Regions from separate parts of the Homo sapiens genome. Here region 1 is linked to region 2. The links come from fine-mapping of genetic effects on gene expression. Tissue or cell type: blood mononuclear cells. Region 2 holds a variant in brackets; the other region holds the start of a gene. All regions are shown on one strand. Distances are between the middles of the regions.

Region 1 (8,184 bases), 32 kb after region 2:
TAAGGTTCTGTGTGTAGCCAAACATACACATTTGATGTTCTGATGTTTGCTATTTTAGTGGAACTATAGCTATAAAATGTATTCAATCAGTAGAATTAAAACATATCCCAGTCCACAAAAAACTAAGAGAGAAATTATACAGGAATGATCAAGAATCTGCACAGTTCTCATAATCTCATTACTACAGAGAAAAGGAGAAAGGGAAGCATCAAGGTAGTATTTGAGACGAATTTAAGAAGACCACTCATTCAATAAAAGTTTGGTGGGCCAACAAGGTGCCATGTATTGGTCTGGTGATATAGCAGTGATCCAAAGTCTTTCACTTCAGGGAGCTGACATTCCAGAAGGGGTAGTCAGAAAATAATTTTTTTAACAAAAGTAACATGGTTATATAAACACTAGGGAGAAAAATAAAGTAGGAAATGGAGGCAGGTTGATACTCACATAACATGAATATGGCTATCTGGGGAAGAATACTCCAACAAAGGGAACAGCAAACACAAAGCCTCTGAGACTGGAGCACTTAACACATGCAAGGACTGATCAATAGGCTAACACAGGTGGACCAATGAAAAGAGTGACAAGTTAGAAATGAGATAAAAAATGAGCTGTTTGTGGCAAAGGAAAGCCAAGATCATGTAGGCCATTCTAAATTCTTCAGCTTTGGCCAGGTGTGGTGGCTCACATCTGTAATCCCAACACTTTGGGAGGCCGAGGCGGGTGGATCACCTGAGGTCAGAAGTTCGAGACCGGCCTGGCCAACATGGTGAAACCCCGTCTCTACTAAAAATACAAAACGTAGCCAAGTGTGCTGGCACGTGCCTGTAGTCCCAGCTACTCGGGAGGCTGAGGCAGGAGAATTGCTTGAACCCAGAAGACAGAGGCTGCGGTGTGCTGAGATCATGCCACTGCACTCCAGCCTGGGTGGCAGAGCAAGACTCCATCTCAAAAAAATAAATAAAAATAAAAATAAAATAATAATAATACAAAAATTAGCTGGGTGTGGTGGCGGGCACCTGTAATCCCAGCTACTTGGGAGGCTGAGGAGGAGAATCACTTGAACCCAGGAAGCAGAGGTTGCAGTGAGCCGAGACTGCGCCATTGCACTCCAGCCTGGGTGACAGAGCGAAACTCCATCTCAAAAAATAAGTACATAAATAGACAAAAAATAAAAACAAATTCTTCAGATTTTACCCTGAGTGTGATGAGAGATTACTGGAAGGCTCTGAGTGAGAAGTAATATGATCTCACTCATTTCATTAGGATTGCTGTGGCTACTGTGTGGAGAATAGACTTTAGAGAGTAATAGTGGAAGCAGAAGACAAGAAGCTACTGAAATATTATGAACAAAAGATGATGGTAGTATCAGACAGGATGGAGAAATAGAGATACTAAGAAGTCGGACTCTAGATAAAAATCTAGAAGGCCCACAAGGTTCATTGATGGATTGGGTTTGGGATGTGAAGGAGAGGAGGAGGACACACAAGAGGTAATGCTGAGCAGGTAAATCTATGAGATCAGAGCCCAAGGAAAGTTCCGAGGTAGGTACTTAAATTTTGAAGTCTTCAGTATGTAGCATTATTTAAAACACAAGACTGGATGAGATCACTCAGGGAAAAGAGGTCTGAGATCTAAGCTCTGGAGCATTCCATTGATTAGAGGTCATGGAGATGAGAAGGAGCTGGTAAAGGAAATTAAAAAAAAAACAATTATTCACAGCCATTCAGGTGGGAGGAGAATTGAGAAAGAGAAGCATCCCAGAATCCAATGGGGAGGAGAAAAGGAACTGTAATATATGCTGCCAATAGATCAAATAAAATCACGAAAATCAACTAAAACTGACCAATGGATTAAGCAAAGTGGAATTCATTGGTGACCTTGACAGCAGTGGGTTTAAGGAAGAACGAGAACAGGAGATAGCAAATACGGACAACTCTGGAGAAATTTTCCTGTAAGGACAAGCAAATACAAATTAAAACAAGCAGATGGGAGATGTGGCATCAAAAACGAGATCTTTAAGGTGAGGTGATGGTACAATCAGTATGTTTGCTATATTAATGATCTGGAGAGATAGAAAACTTAACCCTAGACAAAGAGAAGTCTTGCTAGAATAATATCCTTAAATAAACAAGTGCACATGTAGAGGTTCTGGCCTTAGCAAGAAGTCAAATTATTCACCCAGAGTAACAGGACAATGCTTTGAGATCCTATGGAAAAGGGTTAAATGGTGGATAAATGGTTGCGGTGGCCATCCTCCAAGATGGCCCTAAATGAATCCCACTTCCTGGAATTCACATAGTTGTAGCCCTCTCCCACTAACAGGGTTGGCCTGTGGGATCAAGCACATACAGCAGGAAGTGATGGTATGCCACTTCAGAAATTAGGTCATAAAGACTCTGCCCTTCATCTTGGGTACAAGGTCTCTTGAATCATTTGCTCTGAAGTAAGCCAGCTGCTGTGACATGAACAGCCCCATGGAGAGGCCCACAGAGCAAGGAACTGAGGCCTCTTGCCAACAGCCCAGTGAGTGAGCTTAGAGGCAGATGATCCAAACCAAGTCAATTCCGCAGAGACTGACAATCCAGCCAAGGGTTTCACTGAAACCTCATGAGTGACCTTGAGCCAGAAACAGCCAGCTAAGCCACTCTTGGATTCCAGACCTTCAAAAACTATGAGGTAATAAATTTTTTTTTAAACTACTAAGTTTTGAGACAATTTGTTACACGGCAATAGATAACTAATACAATGGGTCTCACTGAGCTGTAATCACAAATTGCTGGGCACACAATTCACTATAATCTCACCTACTGGCATGCAATGACTTCAGATGACCTCCCCTGTCCTGCTGCATGCAGTTACCTCATGAAATACAGTCGCTGAGAAAGAGGGTAGGATAAAAGGAGTCAGCTTTATATAACTTAACATCCCTGATGCTCTTTTTTTTTTTTTCAAGAGATGTGGTAAAAGAATGCCACTACCACCCTCTCCTTTCTCAACAAAGCAATTTAGAGGGTTCCCGAATGACCTACATCAACAATTGGCCTGAACTAATCAAACACATCATTCAGATTCCCTCAGTAAAATATTGAATACCAAACAGCTATGTTTCAGCAAAGGAAAGGGCAGGGGAGCGAAACTGAAGGACGAAAATACAACTTTGGTCCTCATCAGGGAGACTTCTCTTTTCTTACCTCAGGTTTATTACAACGCAACTTTTAAGAACTTGAGCTATTCCAGGCAGAAGGTCACATCCTTGAGGTAACCAGAGAGAAGCATTAGTTACTTACATGTCACAAGAATATTTTCGATCCCACTGCCTGACATTGCCATTTAGGTGTTTATCAATCATCTCACACTTAACCAGATAAGTGAACTGAACTCCTTTCCCCCAGATCTGTTCCTCCAATCTACCCTACCTTAGCAAAGGAAAACGTCCCACCCGCCAACTGCCCAAATCAAAAGCCTGCAAATCACCCGAGGTCCTGGCTCTCACGGGAGGGACTCCATTAGGGTCCCAGGGGCTGCATTAAGAGTCCCGACAGCGACGCAGTAAATGAGACAAGACGCTGCGGTAGGGGAGAGAGACCCATACATTCAAATGCCTTAAGGGGTCTGGGCCTACAGGTCTCCAGAACTGGGGAGGGCCTGGGGTTACAAAGCAGTTTTCAGATTTTTAAATACATTGAGCGCCAAAAGAGACCCCGCGGGGGCGATGGGGGAGGGGAGCGCACTGGGAGCCAGGAAAGGCCCCTTCTCCAGGAGGCCCGGGCCCAGCCCGGGGGTGGGGGCGTCTGCGTGAGGGAGTGGAGGCTGATGTAAAAGTGGCGCCCGCTGAGATTAGGGAAGGGGGTGTGCGTGAGGGGATCGTGGGACCTGCTTCTGCCCTGCACTCCCCCACAGAAAGCGGCTGTATTGCAAAGGCCGCTCCGGCAGCGCACGGCCAAGCGCGGTGTCGCGACCCGCAGGGCTGCGGCTCGCCATGAAATCCCTCAAGTCTCCCCTCAGGGAACGCTGAAGCCGCGCCACGCCCCCGTCCTTACCAGTCCGGATCAGCTGCTGTTCGCGAGCTGCCGGCCACGCACCAGCCCCGGAGGCGCTCCCGGGGCACAGCCGGCGGCGACTACGCCTCCTCAGGCCCCCGGCGCCGCCGACGCGCACGCCTCCACACGCGCGCGTCCAGTGGAGACCTGCGATTGGCTGCCAGGTGCCGGCGCGAGATCGGCGCGGCTCCGAGCTAGGAGCATGCGCGCGCTCTGACGCCCCTGGTGGCGACGGCTGGACGCGGGGTTAAATTGAGAAGGAGGAGGGCAGCAGCAATACCCCTGAGGCCTTGAAAGGATCTTGGGTTCCGGATCACGGTTCCAGGCAGTCAGGGTTCCAGAGCTGAGGGGGTATCCAAGCAGTCAGGGTTCCAGAGCTGAGGAGCATCCAGGCAGTCAGGGTTCCAGAGCTGAGGGGCACCCAGGCAGTCAGGGTTCCAGAGCTGTCGCAGCCAGGGCTTGGGGTGGGGGGTAGGCTTCCAGTCCATCAGGGGATGGTTTGCCCACCAGAAGGCCAGCTGTTATAATTCTCAGGTGTGGTCCCTTTGTTGACTATCCATGCTTAAGGGATTGTGAGGAAACAACTGAACCTAACATCTGTCCTCTTCTAGTTACATCTGGGGCCAGTTGAATCCAGCCTGCCACCTGTTTTTGTACAGCTGGCAGCAAGCTAAGAACCGATTTCACGTTTTTTTAATGGCTAAAAAGAGAATATTTTGTGGCATGTGAAAATTATATGAAATTCAAAATTCAGTGTCCATAAATAAAGTTTTATTGGAACAACAAACATGCCCATTCCTTTCGGTATTATTTATGCCTGTTTTCCTGCTTCAACAGCAAAGTTGATTAATTGCCAGAGACCATGTATGAAAAGCTTAAAATATTTACTGTCTGGCCCTTTACAGAAAGTTTGCCCACTCAGTTTACTTGCAGCTTTGATTTTTTTTTTGAATTGACCAATTCTGCCAAAAGTCTATTTTAGCAATCTTTTTGGGGGGCGGGTAAATCGCTTTTGGTTTAATTAATCTATAATGTTATTTTCTTATCTATTTTATCTATTTCTTCCATTCTGTTATTTTCTTCCTTCGTGACTTCATAGGCTTGTTCTGTTACTTCTCATTACAACTTTTGGAGAAAAATGCCTACCTCGTTTGCTTGTAAACTTTTTTGTTTCTCTTGTATTTAATGCTATAAATTTACCTTTAAGTACCAGTTTAACTGTGTCTCACCAGTCCGCTTGGTAATATGTTCATTATCCTTCAATTAGATATGTCCTAATTTTGCTAGTTGTTAGAAATGCTTGTTCCCTGGTGCCGCAAAGAAATAGCACTTGAACATAAATTTAATTTTCTCAGCAAGGCCATTTTCACTTTCTGCAGAAAGGGTACACTCGCCAGCAGTTTTGCCACGAGAGTACCCCAAACAAAGGATACAGGGTTATTTATAACCTGACGCATCCACCCTACTGCTGTGTCCGGTTTCCATTGGCTGGAACAGGACCTCACATTCTGTGTTTGTCCCGATTGGCTAACAACTTAGAACTTTCTAAAAGAGGCAAAGGCAGAGGAGAACAAAGGAAGGAGGATGTAACTTGTAGAATGCTGAGAAAGGTAAAAACACCTCCAAATAGGAAGAGGAACAGGCTATGACCTAATGCTTGCTTGGACCAGTATAAGCATGCAAGGGCAAATATTTAGGCTAAATTGTGGGAGCTAAGAACACAAAGTATATTAATTTCTTTATTACGGCTAGCAGATATCTAAGAATGTTAGCACAGGTCTTTGAATAAATTTTACTTCTAAGAGAAGTTACTATTTATTCGTAATTAGACAGGGAGGAAAGTCTTTGAAGAGGAACCTCTATTTTTTACATAGTGATTCTTTCTAACACAAGGGTTATATAGTATATGTTATTTATTTTTGAAATCTATGAGATTTTTAAAAGATTTTTTAATTGTATTATAATCAAATCACATGGCCTAAATATTACTCACCCTTGCATTTGAAGATTTCTGTTCAGTGAAGTGTACCATAGTCAAAATGAAGAGATCATAGATGTAAAGAAGATATTTGCAGTATCTAAAATGTATATATGAGGCTGATATGTAAAGATATTTGCATTATCTAAAATGTATATATGAGGCTGATATGTAAAGAAGATATTTGCAATATCTAAAATGTACGTAAGAGGCCTGGCACGGTGGCTCACACCTGTAATCCCAGCATTTTTGGAGACCAAGGCAGGCAGATCACTTGAGGTCAGGAGTTCAAGACCAGCCTGGCCAACATGGTGAAACCCCATTTTTGTACAAAAAATACAAAAATTAGCTGGGTGTGGTGGCACGCGCCTGTAGTCCTAGCTACTCGGGAGGCTGAGGCATGAGAACTGTTTGAACCTGGGAGGCAGAGGTTGCAGTGAGCTGAGATTGCACCACTGTACTCCAGCCTTGGGCAACAGAGCGAGACTCCGTCTCAAAAAATAATAACATGAAAAATAAATCTATGAGAAATGATCTTCTTTTGGCTTCATAATAATTCCAATGTCCATCAGTAAATTAGTATCAACTAAGCTCCAGGCTTTATTCAAATGTCACTAGTTTTTCCCATCATCCTTTTTGTTCCAGATTCCCACCCAGGATACTGAATTGTACTTGGTCATTTTGTGTTCTTAGCCTTCTGTGGTCTGTGACAGTTTCTTAAACTTTTCTTGCTTTTCATGACCTTGACAATTTTAAGAAGTAAAGGTCAGGTATTTTTCAGAGTGTCTCTCAATTTAGGTTTGATGTTTTTCTCATGGTTACACTGGGGTTATGGTTTTTAGAAGACTATCACAGACATGATGTGTCTTTCTCATAATTTCTCATCAGCGATCCATGCTATCAATAAGACTTCCTACTGGCTTCTCCGCTGTAAATTACTTCCCCCCCCTTTCATACCTTATTCTAAATCTTGCCTACATGCAGGAAGGCCGTGAGGTCTCATTGAAGGAAAATTATCTACACAAGTTACTTTGCAATTCTTCTTTAAGGAAGATTTGTCTCTTCTTCCTTTAGTTTTAAATTAATCAAAAATAGCTTTTTAGTTTTAAATTAATCAAAAATAAAATAAAAAATTTAGTACCTCAGTCATACTTGCCACATTTCAACAGATCAATAGTCACCTGTAGCATATTGGACAGAGCAGAAGTAGAGCATTTTCATCATTGCAGAAAGATCTACGGACAGCACTGACTTAGATCATTAGTCAACCTTTCTTCTTCCCAAATATATGCATTTAGAAATATAAATTCCCATGAAATGCTTTAGTTCCATCCCATAAATTTTGTGGCTGTTTTCAATATCTTTCAGTTCAACATTTTCCTTTTTTCACTGCAATTTCTTAGAGGAGCTATGGGTTATTCAGAATGAGGACCAGGACTGGGGTGAGATAAGCAAGGAGGCTGAGGCACATTAAGGAGAGACCCACGCCCAGCTTCAGGTATGGCATATTGTCACCTTAGGTTCCCTGCTTGCCTCACCCTAGTCCCAGCCCTGTTTAGAAATGTATTGCCTAATTTAGGAACTTTGGGTTTTTTTTCAGTGATCTTTCTGTTACTGATTTGTAAGTTGATTCCCGTGTACTCAGTGGGTAACTACAAAGAGCCCCACAGCTAACATCACAATTAAAGTAAACTATTCTACCTGAGTTTGAGACCAAGAAAAGCACACCCATGAAAGCCACTTCAATTCGCAAAGCATTTGGAATAGCCAAGGCAATTTTGAACACCAAAGTTGGAGAAATGAAACTACCACACGGAGGATTATGCAAAGCTACAATAATTAAGATACTGCAGCATTAGCACAAGGATAGAGAACAGGACAAATGAAATGAAATAGATTCCAGAAACACATATATACAATCATACCTGATTCACAGTTTCCACGGCAATACAGTAGGGAAGGAGTGGTCTTTTTAGTAAGTGGTGCTGATTGATTTTGGGTATGTATATGAAAAAATTAGTCTTCATGCCTTATCACACCATTAACAAAAAATCAGTTTGAGATGTCTCATCAAAACAGTAAAGCTTCTAGAACATAGAAGGAATATCTTTATGTCGTTTGTAGACAATTTCTTAAATAAGACTCATGAAAGATAAACCATAAAAC
Region 2 (8,184 bases):
GTGTTGAGTGACCAATTGTGTTGAGCCATAGAGGAAAGATGTAGGCACCAGTGACTTGTCCAGGATCAGGGATGACACACTTCTTTTTCTTGATAGCTATTCTGTCCTCTCCCAGACATTTTTTTTTTTTTTTTAACACTGCTGTCGCCCAGGCAGGAGTGCAGACATGGCTCATTGCAGCCTGAACCTCCTGGGCTCAAATCTCCCACCTCAGGCTCCCAAGTAGCTGGGACCACAGGCATGTGCCACTATGCTTGGCTATTTTTTTTTTTTATGTTTCGTATAGATAGGGTCTCGCTATGTTACCCAGGCTGGTCCTGAACTCCTGGCCTCAAATGATCCTCCTGCCTTGGCCTCCCAAAGTGCTGAGATTGCAGGCATGAGCCGCCTCACCTGGCCCCTCTCCCAAACTTTCTTTTGAGGTTAAATAATGTAAAAAGGAAGAGTGTGTAGAACAAAAGTAATAGCTAATGTAAAAAAAAAAGTTTAAAACAAAAATTATCCATATCTCACTACTTAGAGATAACCATTATATATATTTTGACAACAAATACCCTTCTGGATTTCTGCATTTGCTCTGTCAGATGTTAGTTGAGGTGGGACAGGGAAAGGGGTTAAGGGAGGAGGCAAGGAAAGAAGGGTCAGAATGCAATTTATCTTACGAGGCGTTTTCCCATTTAGTAATACATAATCAACATCTCTGCATGTTTTCAAGTATATAAAGCTCCTTAGATCATTACTTATTCATAGTATTACAGGGATTCTATGTTTTCTCTATTATAAACTACATGTTGTTGAACTTCTTTCAAACTACATCTATTCATACAGCAAGTCATTTACTTTGTAAAAATTCCTAAACTTAAATATCTGGTTCAACACAAGTATGCAAAATTTTGTACAGATTTTATTTACCATAGAACTATGGCTACAAATTAAATGAAAATAATAGTAATAAATTATAATAATATAGGAGTCACCTCACAGATGTTTCCAGTCACAAAGTAAGGCTTTTCCTGCTTTGTACTTAAGTTGAAATCCCCCCAAAGTGCATAAAGGCGGATACATCCTTTCTAGGGTACCCTTTTCACCCTGTAGATGAACCCTGACGTGGCCAACTGATCTACCGACAGTAGTACACTCTAGATGTCTTTTATTAAAATAATAGATAATAGAGTAATCCACAAACTAGGACCTTACACACATACGCACAGAGCAAAAGCTCCTGAGGTGCAGAGCCTACAGGAAACCTCATCAAAAGCTCTGATGGCTCCTGTCGATGAGCACCTTTAGGAGGGGCTGCTGTTGTCTTAAGTCAGAACAGAGATAGTTTGTGCCTCTCCATTTTGAAATGCTCCAGATTTCCCTTCCCTGTCTTGGTCTCTCAGAGCCTAATGTCTGTGCTGGACTAGCATAGTCAGTCTTTGGTTATGTGTCTGTATTTTCTATTTAAAGTAGTCTAGGCTGGGTGCAGTGGCTCACACCTGTAATCCCAGCACTTTGGGAGGCCGAAGTGGGTGGATCACAAAGTCAGGAGTTACAGACCACCCTGACCAACATGGTGAAACCCCATCTCTACTAAAGATACAAAAAATTAGTTGGGCGTGGTGGCGAATGCCTGTAATCCCAGCTACTCAGGAGGCCGAGGCAGGAGAATCGCTTGAACCCGGGAGGTAGAGGTTGCAGTGAGCTGAGATCACACCATTGCACTCCAGCCTGGGAAACAGGGCGAGACTCCATCTCAAAAAAAAAAGAAAAAAAAAACATTAGTCGGGGTGGCGGCGGGCGCCTGTAATCCCAGCTACTCAGAAGGCTGAGGCTGGAGAATCACTGAACCCAGGAGGCAGAGGTTGCAGTGAGCTGAGATTGCACCACTGCACTCCAACCTGGGCAACAGAGGGAGACTCCGTCTAAAAAACTAAAATAAAATAAGATACTCTAAAGTAAATTATTTAAATAATTCTCATCTTAAGCAAGCAGTTTATTCAGCATGAGGTTCAAAGTAAATAACTTCAAATCAGATGGTCATGAATATAACTTCTTTAGTCATTCAAAACACTCAGATAAACAAGACGGATAACACTGAAATGAAATACAGACAATGCAGTGGATTTTCAACAATAACTACAAAAAGGACTGAACAAAGAGACAAACAATGAATGTGGGCTTGCCTAGGAAATACAGTAGAAATGTCAAAAAAAGTTAAATGAATGAGAGGGGTACTACAATCCTCCACCCCAGGAAACCACAGCAAGGTGCCGTGGATCCTCTCTGAAGCCTGACGTTCAGGTTGTTCATATTTTAGGTACCCTGGACACTTGCTCATAGGCCCTGCAAGAGGTTACAGCAGCTGTTCCCTCCCACAGGGCAAAGCCAGATCTCACAGCCACCTAGGCCTCCCCATGACAGGGAGTTGCTCCCTGGGACAAAGACCAGAATAGGAGGAGGAGGGAGAGATAAAAGGCTCAGATTTGCATAATGTGTCCCACAAATACCTAACCTTTATGCAAGAGGTGAGGAGGGCATAAAAGAGCCATTAGAGAGTCCAACACTAGCTGTGAGGCCAGTGGGCCCTTGGAACTTCAGCACCGTGGTCTAGACTCCTCTCCTCCTCCTCACTCAGTCACTGCCCAGGTTCACAGAGATTTCAGATCAGCCTTTAGAATGATTCTTCTGCCTTCTTTTGGGAGAAAGTGGGTCTAGGAAAAATAGAATGCAAATATTTTTCCAATCCATAGGGAACAATAAGAGGTATACTAGATGAAGAGTTTATGGTCAAATATTTTTTCAAAAAAAAAATCTCTCTATGATGTAATTCTGACTGATAATAGCAAAGAAAACAAGCTCCTTATTTTATATAAAAAATTTTTCTTTTTTTTTTTTTTTTTGAGATGGAGTCTTGCTCTGTCACCTAGGCTGGAGTGCAATGGCACGATCTTGGCTCACTGCAACCTCCACCTCCTGGGTTCAAGTGATTCTCCTGCCTCAACCTCCTAGGGATTACAACCTCCTAGTAGCTGGGATTACAGGCAGCCGCCACAACGCCCGGCTAATTTTTGTATTTTTAGTAGAGACAGGGTTTCACCATGTTGGTCAGGCTGGTCTCAAACTCCTGACCTCGTGATCCGCCCGCCTCGGCCTCCCAAAGTGCTGGGATTACAGGCATGAGCCAACGCGCCTGGCCTAAAAAATTTTTCAAAACAATGCAAGTTTACTACATAAAATCTGGCTTTTTTTTTTTTTTTTTTTTTTTTTAATGATGTGGTCCTGCTCTGTCATTCAGGCTGGAGTGCAGTGGCACAATCACTGCTTATTGCAGGCTTGACCTCCCAGGTTCAAGCTATCCTCCCCTACCTCAATCTCCCAAGTGGCTGGGAACATAGGTGTGTACCACCACACTTGGCTAATTTATTTATTTTCTGTACAGCCTGGATCCCCCTGTGTTGCCCAGGCTGGTCTTGAACTTCTGGGCTCAAGCTATCCTTCCTCCTCAGCCTCCTAAAATTCCGGAATTACAGGCGTGAGCCACCATGCCCGACCTAGAAGTATTTGTTTCAAGGAGCATATTTAACTACGCCGTAAAGACCAAATAGTTCAGAAGTTAGATGTTACAATTTTAGTCTCTTCTCCTACTTCTTCTTTTTTTTTTTTTTTTTTTTTTTTGAGACAGAGTCTCACTCTGTCACCCAGGCTGGAGTGCAGTGGTGCAATCTTGGCTCACTGCAATCTCTGCCTCCTGGGGGGGTCAAGCAATTCTCCTGCCTCAGCCTCCCGAGCAGCTGGGAGTACGGGCATCTGCCACCACGCCGGCTAATTTTTGTATTTTTAGTAGAGACGGTGTTTCTCCACGTTGGCCAGGCTGGTCTGGAACTCCTGAGCTCAAGTGATTTGCCCCGCCTCGGCCTCCCAAAGTGCTGGGATTACAGGTGTGAACCGCCGCGCCTGGCTGTTCTTTCACATATTTTCTCCATAGTTCAGATCACAATGTATACAAATTTTTTTCCTGCTAGTTTTCTTTCACATTACTGCAATCTATCTCTTTTAAAAAAAGTATATAGTGCAGCTATTTCAGCCAGGCACGGTGGTTCATGCCTGTAATCCCAGCACTTTGGGAGGCAGAGGCGGCTGACCACTTGGGGCCAATGAGTTTGAGACCAGCCTGGGCAATGTGGTGAAACCCCATCTCTACTAAAATTACAAAAAAATAATTAGCCGGGCGTGGGGGCCCGCGGCTGTAATCCCAGCTCCTCAGGAGGCTGAGGCAGGAGAATCTCTTGACCGCAGGAGGCGGAGGTTGCCGTGAGCCGAAATAGTGCCACTGCACTCCAGCCTGGGCGACAGAGTGAGTGAGGCTCCGCCTCAAAAAAAAACCAAACCAAAACAACAATAACGAAAAACAACAAAAAAAGTAGATTGTGCAGCTAT[T/G]AAATGAAAAGTACAAAACTGTTCAGTTTCCAGGCATTTAAAATTATTTCTGGCCAGGCCTGGTGGCTCATGCCTGTAATCCCAGCACTTTGGGAGGCCGAGGTGGGCACATCACCTGAGATCAGGAGTTTGAGACTAGCCTGACCAACATGGAGATACCCTGTCTCTAACTAAAAAAAAAAAAAAAAATTATTTCTACTTTACATTTACATTAGTACAACCAAAGTATTGATGAATTATCTTACATACTCAATTTTGGATATATACATAAACATTCATTCTGTAAATTTTTATTGGATATGTTAAAAGCATCCCATGAGGCCAGCAGTGGCTCACGCCTGTAATCCCAGCATTTTGGGAGGCCAAGGCAGGTGGATCACCTGAAGTCAGGAGTTTGAGACCAGCCCGGCCTACATGGTGAAACCCTGTCTCTACTAAAAATACAAAAAATTAGCCGGGCATGGTGGCAGGTGCCTGTAGTCCCAGCTACTTGGGAGGCTGAGGCAGGAGAACTGCTTGACCCCTGGAGGCAGAGGTTGCAGTGAGCCGAGATTGCGCCATTGAACTCCAGCCTGGGCAGCAGAGTGAGACTTTGTCTCAAAAAAAAAAAAAAAAGCATCCTATGAAAAAAATGAAATTATTACCTTTTTATTCATATATTGAAATAACTTCCAAAAAGGCTTATGCCAATTGAAACTCCTTTTAATACATCCTCACTGACAGTAAACATTACAATTTATATAATATTCATCAGTACGCTACCATTGCTTTAATTCCCATTTTTGTTTTTGCTATGGAGACTAAATATTTTGCATTTATTTACCAATCAGCTATATTTATTCTTTGTGAAATGGACAGGGATTTTTTTCTTTACAACAATTTTATAATAGTGCATTAGAGATTTGTCTTAGTAATCTTTTTTTTTTTGAGATGGAGTCTGGCCCTGTCACCCAGGCTGGAGTGCAATGGTGCGATCTCAGCTCACTGCAACCTCCACCTGCTGGGTTCAAATAATTCTCCTGCCTCAGCCTCCCAAGTAGCTGGGATTACAGGTGCCCACCACCATCATGCCCAGCTAATTTTTGTATTTTTAGTAGAGATGGGGTTTCACCACATTGGCCAGGCTGGTCTCGAACTCCTGACCTTGTGATCTGCCCACCTTGGCCTCCCAAAGTGTTGGAATTACAGGCGTGAGCCAACACACCCGGCCCCCGATTTTTCTTAGTAATCTTTGGAAACACTTCAGAAATATTTTTAATTAGCCCTTTCATAATCTCAGGCTATAATTTTCCTGTTTATATGCCATAAAATGTGAACATGTTACACCGTCAAATAAAAAAAGCAAGGTGCAGAAGACTGTGCATAATATAAATCAGTTATTTAAAAAAAAGAAAAGAAAAAATAAGAAACTATCTGAAAGGCTAAAAAAAGAATCTGAGTTGTTACTTTTTCGATGTTTGAAGAATGTGAATATATTATATACTCAACATTTTAAAATAAATGAACTTTAAAAAGAATCCTCTCAAAATGGTGTCAGCCACAATGGCACACCAGAGAGTGGGAAGGCAACACAATGACCATTAACTCAGTTTTAGCTGCCTTCCTTGTATCATAAAAACTTCTAATGTTCCATTTTCCCTGTGGTAACTTCCAAGATGGCCTCCAGTGATTCCCCACCCTCTGGTATTCCTATCTGTATATGGTCCATTCCCACATAGCATCAGGGTTGCTCTGGGTGACCAAGAGTATACAACAGAGTGAAGTTATTTTACCTCCAAGGCTATTATAAAAAACATTGCAATGCCTTCCTTGTTCTCTTTTGGATCACTCATTCTGTAGGAAGCCAGCTGACATGTCATGAGGACCATATGACAAGGAACAGAGGGAGGCCTCCTGCCAATACCCAAGTGAGTTTGAAAGCCCTAGTCAAGCCTTTCACATGATATGGCCCCAGTCAACATCTTAACTGCAACCTCATGAAAGAAGCTGAGACAGCACCACTCAGTTAAGTGACCCCAAATTCCTGACCCTCGGAAACCATGAGATAACAAATAGTGGTGGTTTTAGTTGATAAGTTTGCAGTAATATATTATACAGCAATAGGTAACTAATACAGATTTTAGTACCTGGAAGGGAGGTGCTGGTGTAATACCTAAAATGTAGGAGTGGCTTTGAAACTGGGCAGTGGGCAGAAGCTAAAAAATCTTCAAGGAGATTGTCAGTGCAAGCCTTAGTAGAAAACTGGACTCTGAGAAGGCTCTGGTGTAGCTTAAAATGAAGTGAGGAACATGTTATTAGAAAATTGAGCAAGGGGTTACGTAGTTACGTAGTGGCAGAAAGTTTAGTGACTATCACCTAGTCAGGTGAAAGTAGAAAATGTACCTGAGTCATCTAATTGAGATTTCCAGCCAGAATGCTGAAAGTGCTGATTGGTTTCTTCTTGCTACTTATAGTAAAATCTGAGGGGACAGAAACAAGCTAAGGGAAGAAGTGTTAAACAAAAAAGAGCCAAGAGCCAGTACCTGCTGGTTTTGAAAATTCCCAGTCTTTCCAGATGGCAAAAGATGCTAAAATTAACTGCTCCCAAGCAAAGGTTATATCCAGGGCACTAAAGAAAGGTGCAGAAATATGAAAGATGAGGGTAAAAATCCTTTTTACTTTTTCTTTGAGACAGAGTTTCACCCAGGCTGGAGTGTAACGGCTTGATCTCAGCTCACGGCAACCTCTGCCTCCCAGGTTCAAGTGATTCTCCTGCCTCGGCCTCCCGAGTAGCTGGAGTTACAGGTGCAGGCCACCATGCCCAGCAAATTTTTTTTTTTTTTTTTTTTTTTTTTTTTTAGTAGAGACGGAGTTTCACCATGTTGGCCAGGCTGGTCTTGAACTCCTGACCTCAGGTGATCCACCAGCCTTGGATTACAAGTGTGAGCCACTGCACCCAGTCAGAGGGTAAAATCCTTTAAGGCTCTGAAAGATCAAAAATGATGCTTCAGAGTACAGTAGTCCCCTTTATCTGTGGTTTTACTTTCCATGGTTTCAGTTACCCACAGTCAATTGTGGTCCAAAAATATTAAACGGAAAATTCCAGAAATAAACAATTCATAGGTTTTAGTTTATTTATTTATTTATTTAATGACAGGGTCTTGCTCTGTCCTTCAGGCTGGAGTGCAGTGGCGTGATCTCGGTTCACTGCAACCTCTGCTCCTCGGCCTCAAGCAATCCTCCTACCTCAGTGTATTGAGTAGCTGGGATTACAAGTGCCCACCACCACACCCAACTAACTTTTGTATTTAAGTAGAGATGGGGTTTCACTATGTTGGCCAGGCTGTTCTCAAACTCCTGACCTCAAATGATCTATCTGCCTCAGCCTCCCAAAGTGCTGGGATTAGAGGCGTGAGCCACCACACTCAGCCAACAATTCTTAGGTTTTAAATTGCATGCCATTCTGGTTAGTGTGATGAAATCTAGTGCAGTGGCTCTGAGTTCCATTCAGGACATAAATCATCCCATTGACCAGCATCTCTATGCTGTGTATGCTATGCTCTTGTGGTGTTATAATATACATTGGTTTTGTCCACAGTTCATAACTCCCACAGCCCTTGTTACAGTCTTTTGTTATAATGTTCGGTGTTAGGCCTCAGAGGTAGGCTTCTGACCTTCTGCCATCCTTTTACCTGCCCCAAGGCAGGACTCTAATCTTTCTGATTGTGGGTTCTAAGACCCTCCCAAGAGAGAATCCTGCCCTATACTCTAGCGGGAGAGAAT

What was found. PIP is the estimated chance that this variant, and not a neighbour inherited with it, causes the effect.
Region 1: it holds the start of ZNF280B, and the variant in region 2 is the best candidate, but not a certain one, in a credible set for the expression of ZNF280B in blood mononuclear cells (TOPMed, PIP 0.67).

Annotation. Positions count from the first base shown.
Region 1 is chr22:22,504,619-22,512,802 of GRCh38, forward strand. ZNF280B (zinc finger protein 280B) reads right to left here and starts at 4,124. Exons shown (of 4, transcript NM_080764.4): 1 at 4,041-4,124; 2 at 3,192-3,252. It also overlaps IGL.
Region 2 is chr22:22,472,476-22,480,659 of GRCh38, forward strand. It overlaps IGL. Among named protein-coding and RNA genes, the nearest start is that of ZNF280B, 32 kb to the right of the region's middle. The variant T/G (reference allele first, on the strand shown) is at 4,423.